Regions from separate parts of the Homo sapiens genome. Here all the other regions are linked to region 1. The links come from fine-mapping of genetic effects on gene expression. A gene starts in region 1. Each other region holds a variant in brackets. All regions are shown on one strand. Distances are from middle to middle.

Evidence for each region. PIP is the estimated chance that this variant, and not a neighbour inherited with it, causes the effect.
Region 2: its variant is fine-mapped to the expression of REELD1 in whole blood (TOPMed, PIP 0.97).
Region 3: its variant is fine-mapped to the expression of REELD1 in whole blood (TOPMed, PIP above 0.99).
Region 4: its variant is fine-mapped to the expression of REELD1 in whole blood (INTERVAL, PIP 0.96).
Region 5: its variant is fine-mapped to the expression of REELD1 in lung (TOPMed, PIP 0.91).

What each region holds. Positions count from the first base shown.
Region 1 is chr4:146,210,937-146,216,982 of GRCh38, reverse strand. It overlaps REELD1 (reeler domain containing 1), which reads right to left and starts at 2,445. Exons shown (of 8, transcript NM_001354631.1): 1 at 2,289-2,445; 2 at 1,785-1,907; 3 at 1-41. The coding sequence starts at 30.
Region 2 is chr4:146,162,086-146,168,131 of GRCh38, reverse strand. No RefSeq gene overlaps it. Among named protein-coding and RNA genes, the nearest start is that of LSM6, 11 kb to the left of the region's middle. The variant C/A (reference allele first, on the strand shown) is at 3,110.
Region 3 is chr4:146,185,783-146,191,828 of GRCh38, reverse strand. It overlaps LSM6 (LSM6 homolog, U6 small nuclear RNA and mRNA degradation associated), which reads right to left. Exons shown (of 4, transcript NM_007080.3): 3 at 4,442-4,555; 4 at 294-2,207. The coding sequence ends at 2,173. Among named protein-coding and RNA genes, the nearest start is that of LSM6, 13 kb to the right of the region's middle. The variant ATTTTTT/T (reference allele first, on the strand shown) is at 3,009.
Region 4 is chr4:146,106,455-146,112,500 of GRCh38, reverse strand. LINC01095 (long intergenic non-protein coding RNA 1095) reads left to right here. Exons shown (of 6, transcript NR_038331.1): 4 at 751-900; 5 at 1,028-1,190; 6 at 2,635-3,046. LOC105377469 (a long non-coding RNA gene) reads right to left here. Exons shown (of 3, transcript XR_939294.1): 2 at 4,421-4,616; 3 at 2,876-2,963. Among named protein-coding and RNA genes, the nearest start is that of LINC01095, 12 kb to the left of the region's middle. The variant G/C (reference allele first, on the strand shown) is at 2,648.
Region 5 is chr4:146,171,443-146,177,332 of GRCh38, reverse strand. It overlaps LSM6 (LSM6 homolog, U6 small nuclear RNA and mRNA degradation associated), which reads right to left and starts at 1,615. Exons shown (of 4, transcript NM_007080.3): 1 at 1,522-1,615. RefSeq lists a silencer at 1,406-1,465. The variant G/A (reference allele first, on the strand shown) is at 2,855.

The sequences.
Region 1 (6,046 bases):
CCAGCCCACGAGGGCAGCCTGCATCCTCATCCTGCCCTCTCCTGTATCATGACAAACAGCAGCTTCAGTCCAGACGTTATTTAGGAAAACGACATAAAGTCTTCTCGGGATGTGACTAACCTGAACCCCACACTGCCTCTGTACCTGAGATGCTTTTAGTGCAGCCTCCCAGGATTGCTAATGTTCAAGGCCAAGATCAAAAGGAAATGCCAGGCTATAGGAAGTGTTTCATTTCCAAACACCTTTTTAAAAACTTCTGTTCTTGTAATTTTCTCATAAGACCAGACTGCTTTTTTTGTTGTTGTTCAAAAGAGAGGCTTTAATTATTGAGTCAAAGAAATAAAACCAGAAAATGTTTGTATCCTAGCGTGAGCTCCTTGCAAGCTGACTGGTACCCAAAGGCGGTGTGGCCTCTGATACATTATCTGAAGTAGACACTCAATACACCACCATGGTCAGGCAGCATGGCATGGGATGGCTTGGCTGAGCATCTTATCTCTGTTGCAATTGAAAATTACCAAGTTAAGTGCTACAAAACATCTACCAACTATCAATTATTTAGAAGTGACTGTTAAGCTGGCAATGCTTTGATATCTCTTTGCCCTTTCTTTGGCTGTTTTTAGCTATTTCACTACTTTTAGTAAAGAAGATGAGCAGAGAAAGAAATACTCAATTTATTCTATAACTTCTTAAACATACTGATAACAATTTTGGCTCAGGAATAGAATACAATGATTGAATAAAATAGCATTTATAGAGTAAATTTTATTTTTGTTTACTACCTCTAATTCCCATCAAGAGGAAGAATTAAAATTTGGCAATGTAAAAGAAGATGACAAAAATAAAATGAGAGATAGCAAACAAGGCAGATGAAAATCTGCCTACATAAATATTTAGGATTATCACAGGCATTTTTTAACAGTTCTGTTTTAGGCCAGGTGCGGTGGCTCACGCCTGTAATCCTAGCACTTTGGGAGGCCGAGGCAGGTGGATTGCGTGAGCACAGGAGTTCAAGACCAGCCTGGGCAATACGGTGAAACCCTGTCTTTACTAAAATACAAAAAATTAGCTGGGTGTGGTGGCATGTGCCTATAGTCCCAGCTACTCGGGAGGCTGAGGCAGGAGAATTGCTTGAACCTGGGAGACCAAGGTTGCAGTGAGCTGAGATCATGCCATTGCACTCCAGCCTGGGCAAAAGAGCGAGACTCTATCTCAAAAAAAAAAAAAAAAGTTCTGTTTTTTTTTTTATAGTCCTGCACACAGGCATTTTAGAAGTTTGGCTAATTTTTTGACCTAAGGAACAATGCAAGGCAAAAAAAAAAAAAAAAAAATGCCCTCCCCTGTAGTCAGCTGGTTTTAAAAGGTGAAAATAAAATCCTGAAAATGTAGTAAAACTAGCTATCAGAACAATAGACTAAGGAAATAATCCATAAACCAAATAATCAAGTGTCCTCCACTCCCATTGTCTCTTCACACAACACCACCTTTTACATTCACAAGCTAAAAGAAGACAGGAATATGATCTATACCTCAAATTTCTTAGACATAAGAGTCCTTCAGACAATGCCTTTCTTTTCTAAGTTTGTTTTCTATGAAGCACCAAAGTCACACATCTCCATACTACAAGGAACCATGGCTACAGCTTCTCAGACACATTAGGAGATAATGAAGATGAACTGTGTAAAAGCACATTCTCAGTCAAGGGGGCTCAGGGTTCTTCTCATTTTCTTTCATAAGGGCCACATACAAAATGCCCCTTGAATGCTGGGCATGGTGGTGCGCACCTATAGTTCCAGTTGCTCAGGAGGCTGAGGCAGGAGGATCACTTGAATCCAGGAGGTCGAGGCTGCAGTGAGTTATGATCACATCACTACACTCCAGCCTGGGTACAGAGCAAGACCCTGTCTCTTAAAAGAAAAGAAAGAAATGAAATGAAAATGCTCCTCAAGTCCTTGCTGATGGCAAGTGGTCTTTCCAAAGGCAGATCAGACACAGTTGCCTACAAGGGAAGGGGAGTGAGTGCCTGGACTCACAGACTACGGCCACAGCCCCACCTCCCACCCTCCTGCCTTAGGTTTCACTGTGTCTTCTTTCCCACTAGCATCTTGTCTACCTGAACCCTGAAAACTATCCACTTGGAGCTGAGCATGGTGGCTCACACCCGTAATCCCAGCACTTTGGGAGGCCGAGGCAGGAAGATCACTTGAAGCCAGAAGTTCAAAACCAGCCTGCGCATCACAGGGAGACCTTGTCTCTACAAAAATAAATAAATAAAAACATCCACTTACCTAGGAACACAGTTTTCTTCAGGCTTGATAGAATGGCTTCCTCCCGCAGAGTTGCAAACACATCCCTTAAACATAAGTATTTTCTTCTCCTTTCAGTTTTTCCTCTAATGGGGAGAATAACAGCTGCTACCACTAATCCTCAGCATCTCCAGGAACTGTTCCTCAGTGTCCAAATCCAACCTAAATCGTATTAGCACACACATACACACACACACACACACACACACACACACACGGTTTACAGTCACATCATTGTTCAAGCCTGCGTGAAGAACTAGAAAGAACCGGAACTGGTTTTGCACAGGACTGGCACTGACATCCTTGGCAGAAGCTGGATGCCTCCATCTTGATCTCCCTGCAAAGGGGAGAATGTTTGAATGAAATGCATCTCAGCATTCTTGGCTTCTTGAGTCAGTGTGGACTGAAGTTACTCTTGGTGAAATAGAATTGATACGTTAGCCCAAGAGCAACGTTTGGTACAAAAAAATAACACGTGGCATAGGCACCTCCCGTATCAATTGCACTAAAGCTGGAGTTCACATTTTCATTCATCTAAGAATCTGCTGAGACACCTGATAATACCAGAGAGCCTATAGATCAGTGTTCCTCAATGTGTGGTCCCTAGAGTGCAACACCAGCATCACCTAGAAGCTTGCAACATTAACAATGAAGAAAAAGAGAGAGGAATGGATTTGGGAGATCAGGAGATCAGGTGGAGGTAGGATTTGGTGGCTGTTTGAATGCAAGGCGTCCAAGAGAGAATCCTAGGATTGATAGTCCTGGGTGATGTGGAGTAGGGGGCTGCAGAGAGAGCAATGTTCTGACTGTTAGGCCTTGTCTCCACTCAGAAAAAACTAAAGCTATGAGTGACTGAATAGGCAAGGCACTGGCTTAGGGACCAGGTTGCTAAGCCTTTTGTTGCAAGTGTAAATGAGACTATCTATCCTATAAACACCAAGGGAAATTGGGCTTCCTTGGCCTAGGATACCAGTATTCCCCACACACAGAACAAAAGCAAACAAATTCAATTTGGTTTCTCTAAGCTTCTATCCCACTAGGATTGGAGGCAATCTCAATCTCCCACTGAGTCATGAGAAATTCTGGGAGGTCTAGAAAATTAGGATACATTCCTTCCATGGCTGCTGTTATGATAGTTTTCAGAGCTCATGTGGTCACTTGAAGACTGTTAGTTGGAAGGCTTCTATGCCAAAAAGGGGCTCAGGTCTTCAGCAAGGCTGTGGCCTGGGTTCTTCCCACCCCCTCCACTGGGTCCTGACACAGATCTCTGCCCCTAGCAGGAGAGTGGCTAACCTCTTCTCCACTCCACTCTGCTCCTATCCCAGTCTTAGAGACAAAAGTGTCCCTCCTCTCCTTTTTTTTTTTACTCTCACCCCATTACCCTGGGCCACCTGGCATAATCCACCTACCACAGGTAGAGTGGTAATCTCCAACACCTCAGCTTTGCCCCTGAAACACAAACTCCCTGGATATACGGATTCTCAAAAGGCCCAACTACCAATTAGAATGAGGAGAGGAGTGCAAAGGTAGAGAGAGCGCACCTGCATGGCTCAATAAATAATCCTGCCATTTGCTCATGTAATATTTCTTGTTGAAAATCAGGAGGACACCATATCTTAGACATGGCCTTATCCTGCCTGCCACACCCACAGCCTCTGCTGAGCCGGCAGCGCATCTTATGCCACTCTCCCGACAAAGCTGATTGTACCAGGGGGGCATTCATCACAGGCGAGGGCCCTGCTGACTCAGGGCTGAGACAGAAACTCTCCCTGGGAATCTGACCAAGAACACATACAAGGCTACTCTATACGAGTGCTGGCCAATAGAAATAGAATGCAAGCCACATATGTAATTTAAAATTTTCTAGGCCGGACGCAGGGGCTCACGCCTGTAATCCCAGCACTTTGGGAGGCCAAGACAGGCAGATCACCTGAGGTCAGGAGTCCAAGACCAGCCTGGCCAACATGTTGAAACCCCATCTCTACCAAAAAATACAAAAATTAGCCAGGGATGGTGGCACGTGCCTGTAATTCCAGCTACTCTGGAGGCTAAGGCAGGAAAATTGCTTGAACCTGGGAGGTGGAGGTTGCAGTGAGCTGAGATCTTGCCATTGCACTCCAGCCTGGGCGACAGAGTGAGACCCTGTCTCAAAAACAAACAAACAAAAAAATTGGACTCTCCTTATTTTTAAAAAACGTGAAAAGGAACAAAAGACATTTGTTTTAATAATAAATTTAGTCAATTCAATATATTGAAAACATTTCACATGCAATCAGCATATAAAATATCATTAGTGAGATATTTTGCATTCTTTTTTTCACAGTAAGTCTTTGATATCCAGTGGTATTTTACACTTACAGCACGTCTCAATTCAGACTAGACACATCTCAAGTGCTCCGGAGCCACATGTGGTAAGCTGCTACCATATTTATCAGCGCAGGTCTGTACAAAGGAAGGTGGTTGAGCCATAGGTCATGGTGTGGGGTCAGACCTGAGGCCGTATTGTACCACGTGCAGGATGTGTAAGAGGCATTGAGGGGACAGGATAGTAATTAAACATAACAGCATATTTATATAATGCCTGCACAGTACCACACACTATTCTAGTCAGCTAGTTGGCAAATTACCTCATCGATACAGCAACACAATGAGGTCTGCACTATTGTTATCTCATTTTATGGATAAGGAAACTGAGTCACAGTGTTTCTGTAACTTGCCAAAAGTTCCCACAGCATTCAGGAAGTGATAGATAAGGTTTTTCCCTACAGTTTTGCTATAGAATAGCTTTGTAACATAATCTACAAGATGAAGATAACTACCAGTTCCTGTACCTGCATCCCGAAGTGCTGGTGAAGTTTCAGTGAGGTAATAAATAATAAGGAGTTGGTACTTAGTATGGGGTTTGAGACAAAGGAAGGGCTCTGTACCTGTTTTGTCTGGGGAAAGAGAAAGCTGGCTGAGCCACAGAGAGGGTTGGTGCCCACCACGGAGAGGAGGCGGTGAGAGAGTGTGGCTCTGAGCCAGATCATGCGCTAAGCCCGAAGCCCGAGAGACAGCAGTGAGTTGGCCTCCAATCCCCACCCACATGAAGGAGACCCAGCTGTGTGCACCCGGAAAGCAAGAAAATACTGTGTTTTGTTTGTTTGTTGCTTTTATTTTGGGAATCTGCTTGAGGTCATTTCACACTAGCAATTTGGCTGGACTTGATATATTAACATGATTGAATCTGTTACCTTAACATCCCCTGGCCCTGAGTAGAACAGTTAATATTAACGTCATACCAAGGGAAAGTCTTGGGGTGGGTTTTATGGTTATAAATCAGATACTCTGTGTCCTTCGGTAAATCACTTAACTTCTCTGGGTTGCCTCAGGTATAAAATAAAAAGGTTTGAATTAAATAATCTCTTCTATTTCTTCCAGCAAGAAAATGATACACATTTTCAAGGTTTTATTTTAGTTATAAAGGCATAAGAATGAGCTACTCTTAAAACAGCTTGAGATGGCATGCATTAAAGTCTGGCACGTAATTATAACCTGCGTTGACACCATCCCACACTCACTCCTGGTTTAAGAGTCTGCCTTGGAAAAGTTTGCAAATGAAGGAGGAACCTGTTGAGCTCACTATTCTAGTCCTGTTTCCTGCTCCTTCACTCCAGCAGACAAGTGGACATTTTCTTCATTTTCAAAGATCTTGGAGATGAAGATAATGGCTTTTGTAACTCATGAACAGTCTTTCCTAT
Region 2 (6,046 bases), 49 kb after region 1:
AACAGGGGTGAGCCATTTGAAGAAAGTAGTTGTCTTTGATGTCTTCCCAAAGTTTCCTTGCCAAGGTGCTGCTTCTTCCCCAGTCTGTTTGGTCATCCCTGACTATACTGGAATTCTCACCATGGCATCTCTCAAAAGAGCATCCCTATCTAACCAAGCCTTGGCTCTTGGCTTTGGATTTCTAACCCCTAAATGTTCCTCCAAAATAATTTATGTGTTCTATATTTCTTCCCTATTTTTTCAGCCAAATGTCATCATGGCAAATACCTAAAATACTCATTTCACATAAGGGAATAATAGTAAATCCAATATGGTCATTTTCTCCTTTACGTTTTAATAAGGTAGAGTTTCTCAATAGCTTAAAGTAATAAATCTCTTGTTAGGAAATCTGCATCAGTGACAGGTGTGAGAAGATTATGCAGGTATTTATAGGTATGATGGCCTAAGCAGATGAAGTGCCACATTATTTTTTAAACCATTAGTCTTTGATTTGGGTGAGATAAGCACAGTCTAATGTAGTCTACTCTTAGATATATGTAACAAGAAGGTGCCTATATCTTCCTAAATATATGGAATAACAGGAAACGTGCGCACTTGCCCAAAGGTACAGAGCAGACTTGCAGACTAGCCTTCCTATTGTGTATATCTAAGAGTGGGCTACATCAGACTTGGTTTATCTCACCCAAATCAAAGAATAACAGTGAAAAAAATGTGAATTGTAATTAAAAAAAATAATGGTTTAAAACAGCAGCTGTCTTCCGAATAACTTTATTGAAAAATGGGCAAAGGACTTGAATAGACATTTCTCCAGGAAAAACACAGAAATGGCCAGGAGATTTATGAAAAGATACTCCACATCACTAATCATCAAGTAAGTGAATATCAAAGCCACAATGAGATATTACCTCACACCTGTCAAGATGGCCATTATAAAAAATAATCATAATAACAAATGTTGGTGAGGGATGAGAAGAAATCAGAACCCCTGTGCATTGTTGCTGGGAATGTAAAGCGGTGCAGCTGCCATGGAAAGTAGTATGGATGTTTCTCAAGAAATTAAGAATAAACCTACCGTAAGGTCCAGAAATCTCACTTCTGGCTATTTAGTCAAAAGAATTGAAATGAAGACCTCAAAGAGGTATCTCCATTGCCATGTTCATGCACTATTCACAATAGCCGAGATGTGGATGAATGGCCGAAGAAACTGTGGTATATATACATGTATTAGTCTATTCTCATGCTGCTGTGAAGAAATACCTGAGACTGGGTAATTTATAGGGGAAAGAGGCTTAATTGACTGACAGTTCTACATGGCTGGGGAGGCCTCAGGAAACTTACAATCATGGTGGAAAGGGAAGCAAACACATCCTTCTTCATATTCAGGAGAAAGAAGAAAATAAGCCACTTATAAAACCATCAGCTGTCATGAGAACTCACTCACTATCATGAGAACGGTATGGAGGAAACTGCCTCCATGATTCAATTATCTCCACTTGACAAGTGGGGATTATTACAATTCAGGGTGAGATTTGGGTGGGAACACAGAGCCAAACCATATCAATACCCAGTGGAATACTACTCAGCCTTAAAAAGAGGGAAATTCGGCAGCACGTGGCGGCTCATACGTATAATCCCAGCACTTTGGGAGGCCAAGGCAAGCGGATCAGGAGGTCAGGAGTTTGAGACCAGCCTGACTAACATAGTGAAATTCATCTCTACTAAAAATACAAAAAAAAACAAAAACAAAAAGAAACGAGCCAGGGGTGGTTGCAGGCACCTGTAATCCTAGCTACTCAGGAGGCTGAGGCAGAAGAATCGCTTGAACCTGGGAGGCAGAGGTTGCAGTGAGCCGAGATCGTGCCACTGCACACCAGTCCAGGTGACAGTGTGAGACTCTGTCTCAAAAAAAAAAGAGAGAGAGAGGGAAATTCTGGCATTTACAACAAATTGGATGGACTTTGAGAACATTATGCTAAGTGAAATACACCAGTTGCTGAAGGACAAAGACTGCATGATTCTACTTGCATGAGGCATCTAAAGTAGTCAAACCCATAGAAGCAGAAAGTAGAATGGTGGTTGCCAGGAGCTGGGGGAATTGGGAAATGGGGAATTCCTGTCTGATGAGTGTAAAATTTCAGTTATGCAAGATGAAAAGGTTCTAGAGATCTACTGTACAACAATGTGCATAGTTAACAATACTATACTGTATACCTAAAATGTTTTAAAGGAGGTAGATCTCATGTTACATGTTTTTAAATATAGCAATAAATAATTGTAAAAACAGCAGCTGTTTTCAAAGAAAAAGGGTAGAAAGAAAGGACATGGGGATGGAGTGGTTATATTTTATTCAACTTGAATGCTCAACATATTTATAAGCCAAAATGTTTAAGCCACTCGCTGCCATCTAAAGTCCTTTATTCCTCAACCCCAGACAATTAGGATAATGGCAGCTGTTATGAAGTCAAGGGCATCCAAGACTTTTGAGATGAATACATTGATGATTATTTCCAAGAAAATCAATCCAATTAAACCACAGAAATGACACATTAGTTAATACCAATACTGTTAGCATTTTATGTCTAACTTTAGAATGTAGTGATGCTCCATCCATGAACTTGGACTTGGAAGGGCAAGACGCCTTCCAGATGGAATCTGTGTCTTCTTAGCTCATGTCCTGTTCTGGCTACAAACTTGCATTTCACTACTATTCTAACACATCTAAATCTGAGCCAGAAGCTTATTCCAAGTCTGGAAAAACTGATGGTTTGTTAAATATGCCTTTTTATTGAAGATGGATCAAGAACTGAGGACATATATGAACCCTGAGTAAGATGTGGTCATTCTTTTTATAAAATTAATTTATTTTTATTACACAGTATGGCATATTTCCTTTTTTATTTTGTTTTATTTCAATAGTTTTTGGGGAACAGGTGGTTTTTGGTTGCATGGATAAGTGGTGATTTCTGAGATTTGGGTGCACCCATCATCTGAGCAGTGTACACTGTACCCAATATGTAGTCTTTTATTCCTTGCCCCGTTTGCACCCTTCCCCACCAAGTCCCCAAAGTTCACTGTATCATTCTTATGCCTTTGCAGTCTCATGGCATCG[C/A]TCCCACTTATAAGTGAGAACATACGATATTTGGTTTTCCTTTCCTGAGTTACTTCACTTAGAATAATGGTCTCCAACTCCATCCAAGTTGCTGCAAAGGCCATTTTTTCATACCGATTTATGGCTGAGTAGTATCGCATGGTGTATATATACCACGTTTTCTGTGGTTGATGGGCATTTATGTTGGTTCCATATTTCTGCAATTGCGAAATGTGCCGCTATAAACATGCATGTGCATGTGTCTTTTTCATACAATGACTTCTTTTCCTCTGGGTAGATTCCTAGTAGTGGGATTGCTGGATTGAATGGTAATTCTACTTTTAGTTTTAGTTTTTGTTTTGTTTTGTTTTGAGTCACAGTCTCACTCTGTCACCCAGGCTGGAGTGCAGTGGCATGATCTCAGCTCACTGCAACCTCTGCCTCCTGAGTTCAAGCGATTCTCGTGCCTCAGCCTCCCGAGAAGCTGGGATTACAGGTGTGCACCACCACGCCTCACTAATTTTTGTATTTTTAGTAGAGATGGGGTTTCATGATGTGGGTATGGCTGGTCTTGAACTCGACCTCAAGTGATTCGCCCACCTTGGCCTACCAAAATGCTGGAATTACAGGTGTGAGCCACTGTGCCTAGCTACTTTTAATTATTTAAGGAATCTCCACACTGTTTTCCACAGTGGTTGTACTAGTTACATTCCCACCAGCAGTATAAAAGTGTTCCCTTTTCATCACATCCAAGCCAACATCTATAATTTTTTTTGATTTTTAAATTATTGCTGTTCTTGTAGGAGTAAGATGATATCTCATTGTGGTTTTAATTTGCATTTCCTGATAATTAGTGGTGTTGAGCATTTTTTCTAATATTTGTTAGTCATTTTTATATCTTCTTTTGGTAATTGTCTATTCACATCCTATTCCCACTTTTTGATGGGATTATTTTTCTTTTCTTACTGATTTGTTTGAGTTCCTTGTAGATTCTGGATATTAGTCCTTTGTCGGATGCAGAATTTGCAAATATTTTCTCCCACTCTGTAGGTTCTCTGATTTCTCTGCTGCTTATTTCTTTTGCTGTGCAGAAGTTTTTTCAGTTTAATTAGGTCCCATTTATTTATTTTCGTTTTTGTTGCATTTACTTTTGGGTTCTTGATCATAAAATCCTTGCCTAAGCCAATATCTAAAAGAGTTTTTCTGATGATATCTTCTAGAATTTTTATGGTTTCAGGTCTTAGATTTAAGTCTTTGATCCATCTTGAGTTGATTTTTGTATAAGGTGAGAGATGAAGATCCAGTTTCATTCCTCTACATGTGGCTTGCCAATTACCCTGACACCATTTGTTAAATAGGGTGTCCTTTTCCCACTTTATATTTTTGTGTGCTTTATTGAAGGTCAGTTGGCTGTAAGTATTTGGGTTTATTTCTGAGTTCTCTATTCTGTTCCACTGGGCTCTACATGCCTATTTTTATACCAGCAGCATGTTCTTATGAGAACTATAGCCTTGTAGTATAGTTTGCAGTCGGGTAATGTGATGCCTCCAAATTTGTTCTTTTTGCTTAGTCTTGCTTTGGCTATGCAGGCTCTTTTTTGGTTTCATGTGAATTTTAGGATTGTTTTTTCTAGTTCTGTGAAGAATGATAATGGTATTTTGATGGGAATTGCATTAAATCTGTAGTTTGCTTTTGGCAATATGGTCATTTTCACAATATTGATTCTACCCAACCAAGTATAGCATATTTTCTGTAAATGAATTGGAAGTTACAGATAAAGCTCAAAACTTGCTTCTTATTTCATCACTCAGAGGAAAACAATGCATGAACGTAGTGCTTGAAAGCCACTCTTGTATCTATATCTCACTCCTGCTCAGTATGATACACACTGTTCTATCATCTAATTTTTCTCATTCAATTATACTTTGTGAAGATCTTTACATTTCTGTGAATATAAAATCATTTTCATAGCAGCATAACATTCAAAAATTTAATCTCATTGTCAAACAACCATGTATTTTGAATTCTTTGCCATCAATTACAACATATATTTAAATATGTGTAGGTATATATATACATATATATATATATATATATATACACATGGATATATATATATATATATATATACATGGATATATATATATATATCATATAATTTATATATATAATGCTTATCTGAGTATTTCCTTAGATAAATGCCCACAATGCAGAATCACTGTTTTCAACTATTTTCAATTACTTGCATATTTTAAAGGATACCTTGCTGTAGATAGTGCCATCTTTTCCCCAGGAAAGCCAGTTATATCCTTTCAGAATAAATGATAGTGCAAAAAGATAGCTGTTTTCAAAAATAATCTGTCTAGTTTGTAAATATATGTTTATTCTCCACTCTTCACATATGGAGTATAAGCTCCTGTAGGACAGGAAGAATGCCAAGTCACTATCATGTCCCTAGCACTGAGCAAATGATTATTCCTGAGTATACCTAATATTTGTAACTTTACATATTTGTGTTAAGAGGTACCAAACTGAATATGCTTCAGACCCTACAGAACCTGTAATTCTCCTGTTAACACTTAGTAAGCACTTCCTATTTGCCAGTCTGAGTTTGTTTTGTGTTACTATACTAGAATACCACAGACTGGGTAATTTATAGAGAAAAGAAATTTATTTCTCACAGTTCTGGAGGCTGGGAAGTCCAAAAGCATGGCACTAACATCTGGCAAGGACCTTTGTGCTGCATCATCCTATGACAGAAAGCAAAAGGATAAGTGAGCCAGGAGACAGAGAGGGATGGGGGTTGAACTTTATATTTTTATTAGCAGCCCACTCCTGTGATAACCAACCCACTCTCATGATAACGGCATTAAACCATTCATTACAGCAGAACTCTCATGACCAGATCACCTCTTACAGGTTCTACTTCTCAACACTATTACAATGGCAATTAAATTT
Region 3 (6,046 bases), 25 kb after region 1:
GTCAGATAGTCTGAAAATCGAGCACAATTTTGTTTCTCGCTAAACATTCTGTTTTGTCACAGCCCAAGAGAAAGAGTGTGGCAGACAGGGTTTGGGGGCACACAGACAGGGAAAATGTATGTTCTCAAGTAAAAAATTCTTCAACCTGGAACAAATGTCTTCGCTACAATGCAACTAGAAATCATTCACTGACCTCTAGGAGACTACAGTTAAGAACAAAGCAATTTAAGCATTTACACTTTGTTTCATGGTTCTACTATGTGAAGGTATACACAGGGGACAACTTGAGCGGGTTCAAGTGCATAATACAGTCCTTTATTACCATAAAAATGGCAGCACTTCCCAAAGTTGATCTTGATTAAAAGTAGTTCCATGGTTGAAAACAGTACTCCACTGTAGAGCTATTAAACTAGAGAGATGGCAAGGGGAAAATAAAGACTTATATATCAAAGGCGAGGTCAGGGAAGAAGTTAGAAAAAACAGGACGCTACAGATTAGTGGGAGACTACAATGGAATTGCTTTTAGAGGTGGCTGATATAAGTGAATGAAGGGACACAATAACCTGCAGCCCCACATATTCTACAAAACAAATGAGAACATGTATGCTCCACTTGGAGAGCCATCCATTTTCTCCTTAAAAGAACTCATTTATAAAAGAGCAAATTGGTGATTTGTACTTACATACTGGACCTTTTCCAAGCCCCTGTCAAGAAGTGATAAATTATTGAAGCATAGCATAAAGTGTTTTATTTTCAGTGTGCACACGGTAAAACCCTGTGAAATGCTTCTGTTCACCTTTCCCAAGTTATTAATTAAAAAATAATTGTTTCCAATTACTCTCTGATCTTTAAAATAAACCAAGACAAAACACTACATACACCTCTCCAGAATCAGCACTGCCCCTTCCCTCTCTCCTTCTCGATCCTGCCCCCCATCCTTCAACCAAGCAGTTGTTTCGAATCACACCATCGGCTCCTGAAATAGGAATGCTATTTAGATTGGGAAGGGAGGGAAGAGGAAGTCCAATACAACATTCACACAATTGTCTGGTATTCATTCAACCACAGTGCCCAGATATATTTGTTGTTCCTAGAGACAGCGTAAAACTGTTTGGAGAATAAAGCAGGGTTGTGGAAAGCTCATTAATAAATTGTGAAAATCCTCTCAGCAGGAGTCACATAACCAGAGGAGCTGCCTTGTGCCAAGCAACATAAAGCCTGGTGCTCTGCTCCTGGACAATGTCAAAGGCAAATACAGCTGATTTTTGAGAAAGGCCTCCCTACAGCCACTTGCTAGACCAGAGTTAGGAAAAATTCTTTCCCAATCTCAGCTCGGCAATTAGAACCTGAATTATGTTTACAAACTCTAGGCTTTGCTTTAATCTGACTGTGAGAGATGTACAGGAATGGCCCCTCCCCTACTGTGTTCATAAACTGAGAGAATAACGTTGATGCCAATGCTCCTGAAAGGGAGCAGGGAAACCTAAAAAGTCTAATTGCATAAGGAGATGCAGGGGGACCACTGACAGGAGGGCTTTCTCCTCACTGAAATCTTGTTCATCTTTAGGATTTCTCCAGCACCTCAGTTCGAATTCCCACTCCTTATGTGCAAGTGGCACTCTTGGCTTTCCAATTCTGTTTTTTATTTAGGTGACTCAATCAGTGGCTGAACTTCTGATCCTGTGGCCCCTTTTTGTAGCTTCAGACTGAAACTGGATGCCTTTGTAGAACATATTCACGCAAGGATTCTGTATGAACAGAAAAGGATGCAATAAAGGAGGATTCCTCCAAAATGTTTTAATTATATGTCCATACAATATATAAAATATATGCATCATTTTAGCTGGATAAGAAAAGCAAGTCAAATGAAATGACACTTCTCGAAACTTAAGTTAAATAATCTTGTAGGAAGAGGTATATTTTGTCTTTTTTTAATTATTTTAGCATTCTGTACACTGACAACGAGGTAAAAGAAAATGACTGAAACTTACAAGTGAAAGAACATTTCACAATTAAATCCACAATTGTATACATTTATCTTACTCACATGTCAGTGAAAAATCACCAACTATTATAAAAAGAGGACAAATTGTATCACAAAAGAAGCAAAAATTAGAAAAAATTCATAAAAAAATATATCCAACTATGAAAAGCGTTGCTCTCTTGGTGTCTTCACATCCGTCTCTTCTGTGTACTGATGTACAACACTGAAAAGAAAAAAATACATAAATTGAAATTTAAAAAACCCTGCTTGTAAGTATACATAGTAGCAAGTTTAAAAGCCAACAGATTTTGGTCTGATACATCTGACATTTAAAAGGAATTCTCGTATCATTCAATTAACTCTAGAAGTACTGTAAGACTAGTTTTATGAATCTACACCCAGGTTTGATGTCTTACAAAACTGTCCTAATTTCATCCATGTGTCTCACTGACTCTTTAAAGTGTGACCAGGAAGATAAAATAAAATATATGTGAAAGTCCCTGGTATCTAAGAATGCTTTATAGTTAGAAGTATAAGAATTATGCTTTTCAGGGCTGAACACGGTGGCTCACGCCTGCAATCTTAGCACTTTGGGAGGCTGAAGCGGGTGGATCACTTGAGCTCAGAAGTTTGAGACCAGCCTGGGCAACATGGTGAAACCCCGTTTCTACCAAAAATACAAAAAATTAACCAGGCATGGTGGTATATGCACTTGTAGTCCCAGCGACTTAGAACGCTGAGGTGGGAGGACTGCTTGAGCTTGGGAGGCAGAGGCTGCAGTGAGCTGAGATTGCACAACTACACTCCAGCCTGGGCCACAGAGCGAGACTTCATCTCAGGAAAAAAAAAAAAAAAAAAAGATGCTTTTCAGAAAGTAAATCAGTAAATCTAACCAGGCTAGATCTCAAATTAAGAATAAACAACATATTTTCATCTGTCTCCCCAATACAAACTCTAAACTTGCTGTTTACCTTCTTAAATGCAACAGGATAAACAAGAGCTAAGGAGTTTATTTTTTATTTTT[ATTTTTT/T]AATGATACCAAAGTCCTTATTCTGAGTTCCCGTTAAAAGTCTCATACTTTGGTGTTACCTAATGTTCTGCTTAGTGGTCTTCTCATGACTACCAACATGAACTCGTAGGATGTGTGGTCCGTAGGAATGAAACAAAATGAAATGCTTGGGTCACTTTGGCCAAACTAGAGGTGGTTCTCCCTTCCACCTTCCATGCCTACTCGGCTTCTGAGAGGTCTGCTCAAAGCGAACAGTAAGGTGTCTTCATCAAAGAACATAGCACAGATGAATCAAATAAGTCAAGATCCTCTTTAAGAGCCAATGATGTGAACTTGGGAGTCTAAAGATGAGTGTCACTGATTACATCATGGGAAATGTGACATGAAGGGAAGCATCAGAATGCCAGTACAGCCGCCCCCCAACCCTGCCCCCCAAGTCCTAGGGGTAGTGTGCACGTTAAAGGATCTACCCTATCAACACGCACAGAACCCAACCTGCCAGTGACTGCTGCCATTAGCTGTCTTGAGGTGAGACAAGATCATAACATTTCTTAGGAAAAAGAGGAGGTCAAATAAGGATATGAAAAATAGGATAAATAATTCTATAAATAGAAAGGACTAGAAAGCCAGGAAATAATGTATGTAAAAATATGATATGAAGAAATAAGGTCCTGTAAGCATAGGGGACAGACTCTTATTATAAAAGTCAGGAAGTTTAGTTTATAGCAAAGAGATCCAACTATTTAGGGGGTTGAAGACATCCAGAATTAAAGAAATCAACAAAAAATCTGAACTCAAGAATCCCAGAGTTTCTGGGAGATGGAACCAAAAAGTGGGGTAATTCTCATAATTCTGATATCTTTCCCTCCCCACCAAAAATACAAATATGACTTTATTATAATTTTCATTTTTAAACTAGGTACTTAAAAATAACTATAAAAATCATAGCAATTTATTAGTTGTTAAAAACTGAGTAACTTTTTCTATTTTGCCATTTTTGCCAAACTGAAGGATGCAAATCTGCATAGAAAGCATCTGAATGTTTAATAGAGAAGGGACAAATAGGACGAACTGCCAAATTATGCAAATCAAAGACAGCAGGGAAACGGTGCCCATTCTTACATCTCCAACTTCCAGGCTACAAGAAGCAGGAATATGTGTTGGGGAGATATACTACACTATATTCGAGAAAGCAGGGTTCCAGGTAAGGAGAACAATGTCCCTCAGTTCCTCATCACTAAAGGAAGGGAAGGAGAGAATTTTGGTTTCAAAATTCCATGAAGCATCTACAAAATAACTGGTCAAACTGAAGATCTGACATATAAGCATTTTAAAATAATCAAGCCTAAAAGTGGACTTTTAAATTATCTAGAAACCTCTTTGGTGATCTGGATTATAAATAGAAAGGCTTATTTTGAATGCTGTACTGTAGGGCGAAGAAATGTTACCATTGTTTCCTCGGATAAATGCATCCCCATACTTATTCTTCAGTTGTCCATTTACATATTCTTCTGTCTGCTCCAGGGCTATATTCATGTAGCCATCCAGGCAAGCCAGGACCCCTGCAGACATATTTAGTCAAAAAGAAGATACACAAGGCAAATAAGAGTTGAAAATTACAGGGTATACCTTAGAGCAGACAATCTCTTTATTCATTAGTTCTTAGATGCTTAATATAAAAATTCACACCATAAATGAAACTCAACAGCTTAAGCACAAAACAACTCTATGCCAATCTGAATGAAGTCTAGGAAGGCAGTCACGCACCCACTACTACCCGGTAAAACAACAAACTGTCACTTCCCTCATGGTACGTATGACCACACAGAAACTTTTAAAGCATTCAAAAAAGTAAGAGAATAAGACTATTCCGGCAAAAATACCATTCTTTGAAAGCTAAGCACAAGGTGGGCAATTATGCATAAACAAATGATCCTTGGTTCCAGTGGCATTTCCTACTTTAGCCACTAAGTGAAATACGGGTCTGGCAGATTTATTTCATTCTTTTACAACATCTATTGCAGCAGATGAATGTACTCCAGGGTTAAAAGGAAGTCTCCACAATCTGTTAAAATAATAGAAGAGGAGACAGCAGGTGCTCCCGAAAGAACATCTTAAAGCTGTGACTCACAGTGAAGAGCAGCTTGAGAATATAGGGCAACATATTGCATTATAACACATCTTGTTCTGTTTTGTTACAGCTATAATATTTTCCAATCAAAACTAATAGAGAAAATGGCCAAAAACATTCGAGGGAGCTTTCAAGGAAACAGTTTGAGTCAATCTTTAATTGTGTTAAGATGGTATAAATTTTGTAAAATTTGACCTGATGATCTTTTTCAAAAGATGAAAATCTGTAAGCCTCTAATTCTGTCTCTAATTTAAAGTGGTATTTCCTAGAAAAAAAAATTTAAGTAAAAACAAATACTAGATTCAATTCAGTCGAGTCTATAGTTTCTCATTTGATGTCTTAACTTCATTAATATGCTCCTCACTCTCTGCCTCTGCCCCCATTATCCTCTAAACAAAAAAGTTTCCTTTCAAAATTGTGTAATGACAGCAAAAGACATTAATCTACCAGAATTCTGCTAAAAGCGGTAAACTCTCAAAGAACGAGAATGGACTGTGAATAATAAAATTATTTCCTAGCAAAAGAAAGCTTAAGCTACAACTTTAGCTCGTTTCCTGCTGTACTATTTTACATACAAACTGCAATTATAAATGAGCAAGAAAAATCTGAGGCACAATATGCAAACCTGTTTGAAAACCAATGAAAAGAATTTCAAAATGAAATGTCCAGGCTGGGCAAAGTGGCTCATGCCTGTAATCCCAGTACTTTGGGAGGTAGAAGCTGGCAGATCACTTGAGGTCAGGAGTTCAAGATCAGCCTGGCTAACATGGCGAAACCCCGTCTCTACTAAAAATACAAAAATTAGCCAGGCATGGTGGCAGGTGCCTGTAATCCCAGCTACTTGGGAGGCTGAGGCAGGAGAATCGTCTGAACTTGGGAGGCGGAGGTTGCAGTGAGCCAAGACTGAGCCACTGCACTCCAG
Region 4 (6,046 bases), 100 kb after region 1:
ACCAATACAAAAATGTGCCCTGTTAATAATAATAGCTGCTGTTTATTGATTATTTACCACATCCAGGTACTTCATGTAAGAATGCTATACTGTAGCTAATTAAGATAATCACAGAAAATTATCAATAGGTAACTTCGGTTACTATTTTCTACATGCTAGCTTTTATTCTCACTTCATCCTTACCATCATGCTAGGAGGATAGGTATTATTATCACCATTTTAGAGATGAGAAAAGTGAAGTAAATACTATTAATTTCATTTAGAAGATAAGTAGATGAGGCTTAATCACACAGTTATTAAGTGGCAAAGACCGGATTTGAATCAAGATATCTGATTTTTAAAATTCACCTTGTTTCAAAGCATTTTACTTCACCTAAGAAGTTAATACACCTCACAACCAGATAACTCCTTCTTTTCAATTAGACTGTGTCTGTATCTGGGATCAGTTGCGAAGCAGAAGTATGACGTGACTAAGGCCACCGCTGGGTTAGGATACCCCCATCCAAGGTCAGGTTCTTAACTTCACTTAGCTCTGAAGACTTACGATTAGTTTTTCCTCTCCCATTTTTTGGGTAGCCCTTTCTCTTCTTTTCTGTGGAAAAATTTGTAACTTACCAGAACAGTTCACAATATGACAACATTGTAGTGGTGACATCACAGAGACAGAAGGAGGAAGAATGGCAACCCTTGGACTCCTGGGGATGTGGGAGCTCCTTGACCACATGTGGTACCTCTCTTTCCTGATCCCAGATTGAGAGCTGTACTAGCCTGGCATGCAGACAGCAGCTTTAGAATCAGATCTGCCTTCTGGCGGCTTCCCACCTAGGAGCCATGGGACCTTTGTGAAGTCACCAATTGTGCTGTGGATGCTTCATTTGTGAAGGAGAACAGGACTGCCTTGTAAGTTGCAATATGCGTTAGAAATAGCAAATAAACAGTACTTAACTCATAGGAGGCCTGTGATAAATGGGAGCTTTTATCATAGACTGACTTTCCTGCTCCTGTTTTGCTTCTTCTTTATGTTTAGGTGAAATTACGGATGGTGCTACTAAAACATATCAATAATTTGAATTTCACTTTTGTGGATGCTTTAAACATCATAGTCATTAGAAGGTGGATCTGGCTGATTGTACTTTAAGTTTTCAGTTTGAGCTGGAGCTTTGTATTATAACAGGAGGGTACTGGACAAGGTGAGTTGCTGATAGCCTCCCCCCACCTGCCAACAGACCTATCATTAGATGGAATGTAATGGACTTTGGCCAGTTGTTCTCCACCCCAGCTCTGACTTAGCGGCTCTGGCAAGAATGGATATATGAGCCTAAATACAGAGCTTGTTGTGCTACTTTTGGCTTTCCTTGTCATTATTTCTTCCTCTAAATTCAACAAATCATTACTTCCTCTTTTATTATGTTTTAGTATGAGTGTTTTAATACCACAGATATTCAAAATAAGCCTGTGGGAGACACTGGGTTATGAGGTGATCATACATTGTTCCTTTAATTTTCAGAACAACACAATAAGATAGGGACCCTGTCCCAGAGATGACTACATTGAAGTTCAGAGAGTTTAAGTAACTTGCCCAAAGTCACATCGCTAGTGAATAGCAAAACGAGGATTCAAGCCTAGGCCTGCCTATTTTCAAAGTTTATGGAAGGAATTAAAACATTTCTTAGTCTAATTTTCTCGGAGTTTTGTTCTGCTTTGTTTTGTTTTGTTTGGCTTACTTTCTTCATCAGCCTAATACCTGCTTCAAGTCTAAGTGAAGCTTTCACCTCTGCCTGGAAGTCTTCCCTGTCCCTGTAGGCTGTCAGGTGGCCTTCTCCCAGCCCCCATAGCATCCAGCATAGAAGCTGATCACAGCACTTACCACCCAGTGAAAAGTGTGGGCACAGTCCTGTCGGCCCCTTCCTCCTAGACTGTGCACCCTTGGGCAGCATGCTTTGCTTCCACAACACTTGCTACTTAGCAGGGGCTCAGGGCAAATGTGTGGACTTGAGCTGCCAAATTGAAGCCATAGGTCAATATTAGAACTAAACACTAGTGCTAAAGTGAAAACTTTAAGATGCACATAGACCAGTAATCCCCAAATGTGTTTGCTGAGGAGTGTGTGTGTGTGTGTGTGTGTGTGTGTGTGTGTGTGTGAAGAGACTGTGTACCACTGGCTTTTTCTCTCCTGTCATACTTTCACTCCTGATGGACTAGGCCTATGGAGTGTTCATTTTTCTCCCTGAACATTAGACATCTCTCTGCTGCCTTTAAATAAAATTCCTCATTTTACCTCTCCTCTTCTTTTCTTTATTTCCTTTGCTTCAGACAAGATATGAGCCCTTAACTCACCATAATTAACCTCACAATGGGCTACTGTTTGTTTCATATTGGAGACCACAAGATGGATCAGATAATAGTCCAATATTTTTGGACTACAATTTCCAATATTATTCCAATATTGCTGGAATATTATTCCAGTATCATCTACTATTTTCCCGATATTATTATTGGAAAATAATAGCATAGCTATTATATAGAATATTTACCCTGTGCCAGGGACTGTTTCAAGCACTTTACTTACATTAACTCATTTAATCTTCACAACAACTTTATGAGATTCATACTATTAGTATCAACATTTTACAGATGAGGAAACTGA[G/C]GTACAGATGGGAAACTTGCTCAAGTTCACACAGCAATTAAGTGATCAAGTCCAAGAGCAAAACCAGGCAGGCTGGCTCCAGAGCTCACGATAGTCCACCACTGCTTTCCACCATCACTACGGAATCAAGTCCATGAGGATACTCACCTTATGTCAGTTGCCTAAGTTGGAAATTATAGAATCTTCAAATTGGAAGGGACGTTATCATCCAAGATTTCAACTTTCTACTCACTGCAAAATCCCTTCTGGAACTTCCCAGATTGATGAATTTTCATCAGCTCTGCTTGAGTACTCCCAGTGACTTGGAAAAAAAACACTGTAATATGGATATGAAATATAAACTGTTCATGGATAAATTATTGCATAATAAAAACATGCCTAATGGCTACACTCCCCTAATATGTTCATTTGGTAATTATTTTTTATTTGCAAACTTGTTTTGATAGAACTGTTTCTTTTAAAAAGTTTAATTTGTCTTGAGATACATTTTCCTTTTATATCTTCTTATTAATGGGCTTATTTTCAAAGAGGAAGGTACAGCAAAGGTAAAAGAAAAAACTCATTTTCTCATGTTGTTTTGGGGTAAAAAATAAAGGCTAACAGTGGGTGAGTGATCTTTTTAATATTTTTAGTTAATTTCCCACACATACTTTAAAAAGTTACTATGGTACTGTTTTCTCCTACTATTAAAAATCTGTTTGAAATGAACTACTGGAAAAGTTAGGACATCATAAATCATCTTAAATAGAATAATTTATTTGATGTTTAATCCCTAATTAAGATGAAAATATCAATTGCAGCTGTTCGTTAGGTATGTTCTTAGTTTGTGTTTGGGCCACAGCAGGGGAAGAAAACCCAGAATTTCATAATTTTAAAGAGATTTCTAAATGCTCTGTGTTACACAAAACTTGCAAGTATGGCATTGTGGGAGACAACAGCAGTGTCATAGCTGACATTTGGGTTCTGGATTCAGACTGCCTGGGTTTAAAGCCCTTCAGTCCCCATCTTGATACAATGTTAAAAACATTCAAAGTTTTTAGCACAATGCCTAGCACTTTAGATGCCCAGTGAAATGCTGATATTATTTTTCCTTGTCCATTGAGATCTGTTTTGAAGTATAGGCAAAGCTTGGGACTGAGAATAAAGAATCAGCATCAAAGTCTTATAGTTCATCGTTTTAAAACTGTTTTCTCCAATTTATCCAAAAATAAAATTGAGGGAGTAAGATAGCCCGTGGTTAACATATCAAAGCACCAATAGACAGATTAGAGACTAAGAAGGTACATGAGCACTACAGGCTAAGATGTGGCCAGAACGCATGTCAGGTAAGAAGGGATACCCAGAAATCCTATCTTGGAGGCATCAGGTGAGCATGAGCAAAAGGATATCCCAGGCCAAAGGAACCTTGAATTAAGCAAGCTCTTTACAAGTCCTTCCTTGTGAGGAAGGAACGGCCCTGGGCCAGGCTTCCAAGGACTTCCATTTTAGTCCTGGGTCTGCCTTCTGTCACATTTCAGGCAGGCCATTTAAATTCTCTGAGCCTCAGTAACATTTTTTTTCCTGCCTACCTTAGGGTTATTGAGATACTGTGTGGGAAAGGCCATTGAAACAAAGTTTCAGAGCACTATCTATAAAACACCACATTTTATCACTAATAATCCCATCTTCTAATGTAATTACAGACTTCCCAGGATTTAGCAACCAGGGCCTGGAAGGCAGACAAAGGTAACTGGCCCCATGTGATAAAAACAGGTACAAACTTTCTTTTCTTACCTCACAAGCCTAGCTTAGTGCTGGACACTCAGCAAATGCTAACAAAGTGCCACGCATTGGTTTGAAAGGGTTCACTTCAACCTTGCCTTCTTCAGGAAGCACTTACAGAGAGCACTTTTCAGTGGGTAACAATGTGACGTCAAATGCTCAGTTTAAAACCTCCTTCCAAATAAAAGGAAATTCATCCTAGAAATGGCTAGAATGACAGAATGAAAACAGAGCAGTATCTACCTGGGCTTTAGTGCCAGGAAGTGACAGTCATTGGCTATGTGTTCAATTACATGGCCGAAGTTAATAGGTAATCAAATATTATGCAATAATAGATTAGTTGCCTTTCCTTGTTGCTAATTATCTAAAATATCTCTATATTGCATATTTAAACATAAAAATTTCCCTAAGGTGAATGATACACTATGCCATTTTTAGTGATTAAATGTGGCATTTTCTGCATCTTAATGAAACCATTATTTTTGTTCAGCTGAGTGATTTTATTAATTAAAAGAATGTCAGGAGAGTGGCAGCATGGTCATAGAGTTCTCAGAGAGTCGTAGCATTATAGAGCCATAAAGGACCTGACCAAACCCAGCCAGGGACTCTCAGTTTACCTGTAATTCTCCACCTGGAAGTCAAAAAGCTGGGTTCTGATATCATCAGTACTATGTGACCCCGGGCAAGTCATTCCAACTTTCTTTGACTGAGTTTATTCTTCAGACAAGGGATCTGTAATGCCATGATACTTTAAATTAAGCTTTTCATGTTGACATATGTTTATATATTGTTACACTAATAATGATGTGTCCCAACAAAGTATGGTTTTCTTTCTCTTTCTGACAACAAACACAGGGACTAGCTGTATTTGAATTCTCTGTTATTGGGAAAAAACATGGCTTTTCTTAATAGGCTGTAAATAACCTGAGGGTGCAGTTTGGGGTTCATAATTTTGTGTCCCCCATGGTGCCTTTAACATACTACTAGAAAGAAATAGAATTTCATTGTTGCGTGTTTCAATGTATTTCGGACCAAAGCATCCTGCTCTGAAACATCATTAAGGGAAAAAAATCCTAGCATATTGTGGGCCTCCAATGAAATGAATGTTAATTGTGTTGCCCAATACCAATTTATTAACGTTTATGAGCATACAACTGTGCGTGCACAAACACAGTTCATATATAGTTCTTGAAAAAAGCATTTGGGGTTTTCTACCACATGATGCTTTCAGTCAGTACCTCCTACCATTAATTTGTGTTCAGAGCAGTAGTTCCCAAAGCTACCCCTTCAGCAACATGTATGTTGACATGGATGTTGAAATGGATGATGTAAATACAGCCATTCAGAATAATCTGGAATCCTATTTTATGATTTGGAATGCCCAGAATGTCCAAGACATGACATACTTACAATTTCTCAGAAAAGTCACACCTGAAAAAGGTAAACACTCAACATAGACACTTAGACTTTCCAGGCATCTTAGCTACAAGACCAATGGTGTCAGTATCTTGAGTTCTGTGTTCTATAGGAGCTTTTTTTTTTTTTTTTTGAGATGGAGTTTTGCTCTGTTGCCCAGGCTGGAGTGCAGTGGCAAGATCTCGGCTCACTGCAACCTCTGCCTCTTGGGTTCAAGCGATT
Region 5 (5,890 bases), 40 kb after region 1:
ATAACCCAGGTGATGTAAACAAATTTTTAAATTCTAGTATCTACTATGCCACAGTTCAGTGAGAGACTGCCTGATACAGCACAGAGTACTCACTTGGGAGGCAGGAAACCTGAGTTCTAATCCCAGCTCTGCTACTTAATTAGCTGTGTGACTTGGATAACTCATAATTTCACTTCTCATGGCCCCAGGTTCCTCATCTGCAATATAAGGGAGTTATGCCAGATGACCACTTAAGTCTCTTCCTGCCCTAACATTCAGGTAGTCTAACGCATTAACGCCAGTGACACACACACACACACACACACCACAAACACAAGCCTCTCAAGATTTCTGCACAATATTTAAGCAAGTAAAATTACCAAACATCTCTAAAACTTTTTTGGAAAACACTGCAGCAATGTGTATGAAGGCCTAAAACAGACCTTTCAGATGACAGCATCTAATCTGATAATTTCACTTCTGAGAATCTAGTCCAAGGAAATAATCTAAAAAATAGGGGGAAAAGAGTTTATCAAAGCACTATCTGGGATGCTAAGATGATGTAAAAATTCAAAAACAATCTAATGTCCCACAATCGGGAAATGACTGAATAATTTACGGGACCTAAACTGGGACCCACAATGATAGGACAATCAAAAGAAGATACAAAATTAGAATAATATTTAGGAAGAGTTTTTAAATGGAAGTGGAAAACTACACTGTTAAGTGATTAAACATGTACACTCTTAGTTCAAGTAGAAGCTAGCACATACAAGAGAAAATGATCGTAGGTGAAAGGGTTCAGTGAATATTATTTTCTTCACTAAAGTCTTCTATGTTTGCAATTTTCTACAATAGTCACGTATTACTAAGAGCAGTGGGGCAGGGTAATCCGCATCATCTTAATCCTACACACCTTAAAAATGCCTGCTATGCAGGTGTGCGGACACGCATACGCACAGAAAACCTTGGGCGATAGGACTTAAGACCATACAATCGGGTTCCTCGACCTGACAACTTGGTAAGACAGGCGAGTCCAGCCTTTAATTCCTGTGGTCAGGCGCAGCCACCCCGATGTAGGAGAGGGTTCGCAATTCCCTGAAGCCCTCCTGGAAGACAGGCGAAGCCTAGGCCTGGGTTCGGGATCCGCTTTCCCGCCGAATCTTGGGATTAGCGTCGGGGCTCCCTGGGGAACTTCAACAACCTGAATTGATCTCGGACGCCAACTCGGTAGGAGCCGGGACGGTGCCGCTCCTCTCCGCGCAGTCTAGGCGCCTCGCTGAGGGCGGTCCCGGCGCCCACCATCAGACCTCTCCCAGCCATTCCATGCGCGGAGAGCTTGGACGCGGCATTTCGCGGGGACCCGCCACCCAGCGGTCCCTTCCCGGAGCCCCAGCCTGTTCACCGCAGGCCCTTTCCGGGGCTGCCTCGCCCGGCCTAGGGCCGCTGCAGCCGCCGCTCCACAGCGCGACTGAACACTGGGGCACCGAACCTGGGGCTGCGCCCGGCCCCGTCGTCGGCCCGCGCAGCGGTGCGGCTCACCTCGCCGGCGGGAACCAGAACCCTCACTCCAGGCGCCCCACGAGCCCGGCCGCCGCGGATGATCCCAGCCAAAACCGAAAGCGCCGAGGCAGGGGCACTTTTCTGCCTCAGCCAATCAGTGCTCTTCTCTGCTACGGCAGCCCGCTGGGGCCGAAAAAGCCTGTCAGCACCAAAGCGCGCAAATCCAAGATTCCTGGTTTGTCTAGTAGCAAAATTGGTGCAGTGGAGTTCCTCTAACAGAAATCTGAGTACAAAACAAATACAATACAAAACAAAAACAAAATTCCAGGAAACTAGAAGTGATCTTTTGGGCAGGATTTATTTACAGAAGTGTAAAAAATAACTTGAAGTCATAGGAAACTGGAATTTACTGTTTAAGTAACGGCATTGTGTACCCAGAAACGTCCTTGAATAGTTTAAAGCAAATAAATAAATAAATGAAACACCTCAAGTCTTTAAATCTACCTCTGGATATTGATTAAATGTGTGAAGACTTAAGCCATTTTAGCAAGAGACTGTTTCCATGGCAATGTTAATTGATACAAAAATAATCAAAATCACTCAAGTAACTCCAAATTATAATGACATTAATTGTGTTACATTACTAGTTCCTATTGGAAATGGTGTGCAGACTTATTTCAGTGCTACTATGGGAACTTGGTTTGGAATTTTGCATGAATTCTCAATACTCTTTCTATTAATGGAATTGAAAGGGAAAAAGAAGAGAACTGTTACACCAGGACTTGATTCGTTTTTCCCCCTCCACATATACTCTCATCAGTTGAAAACTTATACTTTAATTATATTTATGATTTGTAACACTATACACAGAGTGATAAGATCTTTCAACACAGATCCTTAACCCCATTAGGTGTTATAAAATCTAAGATGCAAAATTTTTTTCGAAGATAAAGAGTTCCTCCCTTGTAAACTTCTTTTGGTTAAAGGCAGAAGAAATGAACTTTTGATTGATATCAGGGACAGAAAACAACTGGATATGATTTGTTAAAGAATAGAGACTTCCTTATATCCTTCTATAAAAGTTCAGTTTGGATAAAGACCGAACAGTTACTGATTTATTGTGAGGGCTGTATTTGAAGTTCTTGCAATATAAAATACAATGTAAATAAAAATTTTAAGAAAAGTACCATTTAAATCAAATAATTACGTGCAAAGAACAAACATAATAGGATAAAAAGCCCTGTTCCTAAAAACTTTCTTTGCAAACGACATCAAATTGCACATTCCTTACTGATTGTTTAAATTATTAAAAAAAAAAAGAAAATTTTTGATTCAAACTTCTTTCCCTTTCCTACAGAGCCCTAATCGAGCC[G/A]TTAACACTAGTGTGGTGGGTAGGGAGCCATGAGGAGTTTTAAGGGCCTAGTTCATCTGCTGAGCAGCTGCAACCTTCTCTAAGGGGAGTAGCTGGGTAAGGGCCCAGTTTGACACACGGGGTGGGCATCCTGAATTAATTCATGAGCTAACAAGCTTATAAAAAGTGTGGCTGTTCCCAAAAGCCCCTCAGCAGCTTATAAATGACTTTTACTAACTCACAAGGCAATTTTCCGTATTTCCCAGGTTTTTGCTTTCAGCATCTTTTATGATGCAAAGAAAACACTGCAAGACTTTTGGTGAATACTAGTCTTCAAAACCCTGAATGTAAACATTAATTTATTAAGGAGCCTTAAAGTCATAAAAATATTTTGGCAAGCTTTAGTTTAACTTATGTAGTTTAGTTTCATTTAGTTGTTAGGACTGATGAACCTACACTGACACATCATTATCATCCAAAGGCCAAAGTTTACATTAGGGTTCACTCTTGGTGTTGCACATTCTATAGGTTTTGACAAATGCATAATGAAATGTACCCACAATTACAGTATCATACAGAATAGTTTCACTGCCCTAAAAATTCTCTGTGCTCCACCTATTTATCCCTTCCTCCCCACTGGCAACCGCTGATCTTTTTTCTGTCTCCAAAGTTTTGCCTTTTTCCACAATATCATATATTTGGAATCATACCGTACACAGTTAGTGGTGCATACACTGCACCACCCCACTGTGTAGCCTGTTCAGACTGGCTTCTTTCACTTAGAAATATGCATTTAAGACCCCTCTGCGCCTTTTCATGGCTTGACAACTCATTTCTTTTAAGTTCTGAATAATATTCCATTATTTGGATGTACCACAGTTTATTTATCCATTTACCTACAGAAGGACATCTTGGTTGCTTCCAAGTTTGGGAAGTTATGAATAAAGCTGCTATGAATATGTGTATGCAGGTTTTTGTATAGAAATAAGTTTTCAGCTTATTTGGGCAAATATCAAGGAGTATGACTGCTAGATCATATAGCAAGGGTATGTTTAGTTTTGTAAGAAACTGCCAAACTGTCTTACAATGTGGCTGTACCATTTTGCATTCCCACTAGGAGTGAATGAGAGTTTCCATTGTTCCACATCCTCATGGGCATTTGGTGCTTCCAGTCCTTTGGATTTTGACTAGTCTAATAGCTGCTTAGTGACTATCTCATAGTTGTTTAAAGTTGTAATTCCCTAGTGACATATGATATGGAGGATCTTTCTATATACTTATTTGCCATATGTATATCTTTGGTTGTTCAGGTCTTTGGCCCAATTTTGAATCAGTTTGTTCTTTCTTTTTGTTGAGTTTTAAGAGTCCTTTGTATATTTTGAATAATAGTTCTTTATCAGATATGTGTTTTACAAATATTTTCTCCCAGTTTATGGCTTGTCTTTTCATTCTCTTGAAGCTATTATGCTTAAAATAGACAAATGCAGATATATAAATGCTAAGAGAACTCTTGCCACTTCATTGTTTGTCCCTTCTACAGTTCTATAGTACATATGCCTTTAAATAACTATGTCCTTCAATGTTTCATATTCATAAAAGATGGTCTCATGTCTAGCTTATTAAACACCCAACAGCCCTGTGAACATGTAGATGAATGTATTGTGATGTTGTTGTGGTTGTTGTTGATGATGATGATGATGATGATAAATACAAACATGTAATTGGATTGACCAACACTCTCCAAAGCAGATTTTAATATGTAACATGGATGTTAAGCTTCCAAGAATACTGGCTGGTCTTGTTGGAGCAATGCATTAACTGGTATGAAGTGCTGGCATGGACCTGAACCTTTCCTGGACCTTCAGACTGTACAATAGGAGCTCATAAGCTGTGATGTGCTAGTTTTGGATACTTGGGGCCACCATTATCTGCCTTTAATCATGGGATATGAAAATTATTTGTTATAGAAAATGAAGAGAGGCCGGGGGCAGTGGCTCACACCTGTAATCCCAGCACTTTAGGAGGCCAAGGTTGGCGGATCACTTGAAGTCAGGAGTTCAAGACCAGCCTGGCCAAGATGTTGAATCCCGTCTCTACTTAAAATTAAAAAATTAGCTGGGTGTAGTGGCACATGCCTGTAATCCCAGCTACCTGGGAGGCTAGGCATGAGAATCTCTTGAACCCGACAGGCTAAGGTTGCAGTGAGATGAGATCATGCCACTGCACTCCAGTCTGGATGATAGAGCGAGACTGTTTCTTAAATGAAGAAAGAAAGAGAGAAAGAAAGAAAGAAGAAGGAAAAAAGAAAGAAAGAAAGAAAGAAAGAAAGAAAGAAGGAAGAAAGAAAGAAAGAAGAAAGAAAGAAAGAAAGAAAGAAAGAAAGAAAGAAAGAAAGAAAGAAAGAAAGAAAGAAAGAAAAAGAAAGAAGGAAAAGAAAGAGGGAGGGAGGGGAAAAAAGAAAATAAGGAAACAGACAGACACTCTCTGGTTGTTGAATACCTTCTAAGAAGTGATACAAGCTCATTGACTGGTGGGCAAATTTCTCAGAAAAAGTAGTATGTCGTTTTGCTTACCCAAGGAAGTGATATATTCTACATCATGGGCGCTTGGTTTCAGATGTAACATGTGAGATGTTTAAATAATGTTCGGACTTCATCAGCCATCATTTTGGCATGACTTGAATTTTAAAAGAGATAGGATCAGAGTCTGAGCTCCTGGAAGGAGAATCTCCCAAATGCTGTGATGCTTTATACTCCACCGTGAACTCTAGAAAACCTCTCTCAGCTGTAAAATTTAGTGAAATCGGTGTGAAGCTGCCCTTGTATTTTAATCAAGATGAACTTGAAAGGTGAACATTATAAGTGGGAGAAATTATTTATAATTTGGTAATAAAAGTTTATGTCTAACACTCCAAATTTCATACATCTGCTATGTGCTGGCCCTGAGATATAAAACAATTGAAGTTGCCTTTACATTTGGCCTTATATGAAAGGTCATAAATTAGAGTGATAGCGTTCATCCTCTTTCCTAGCTCACAAAATTTCCATATTAACATCT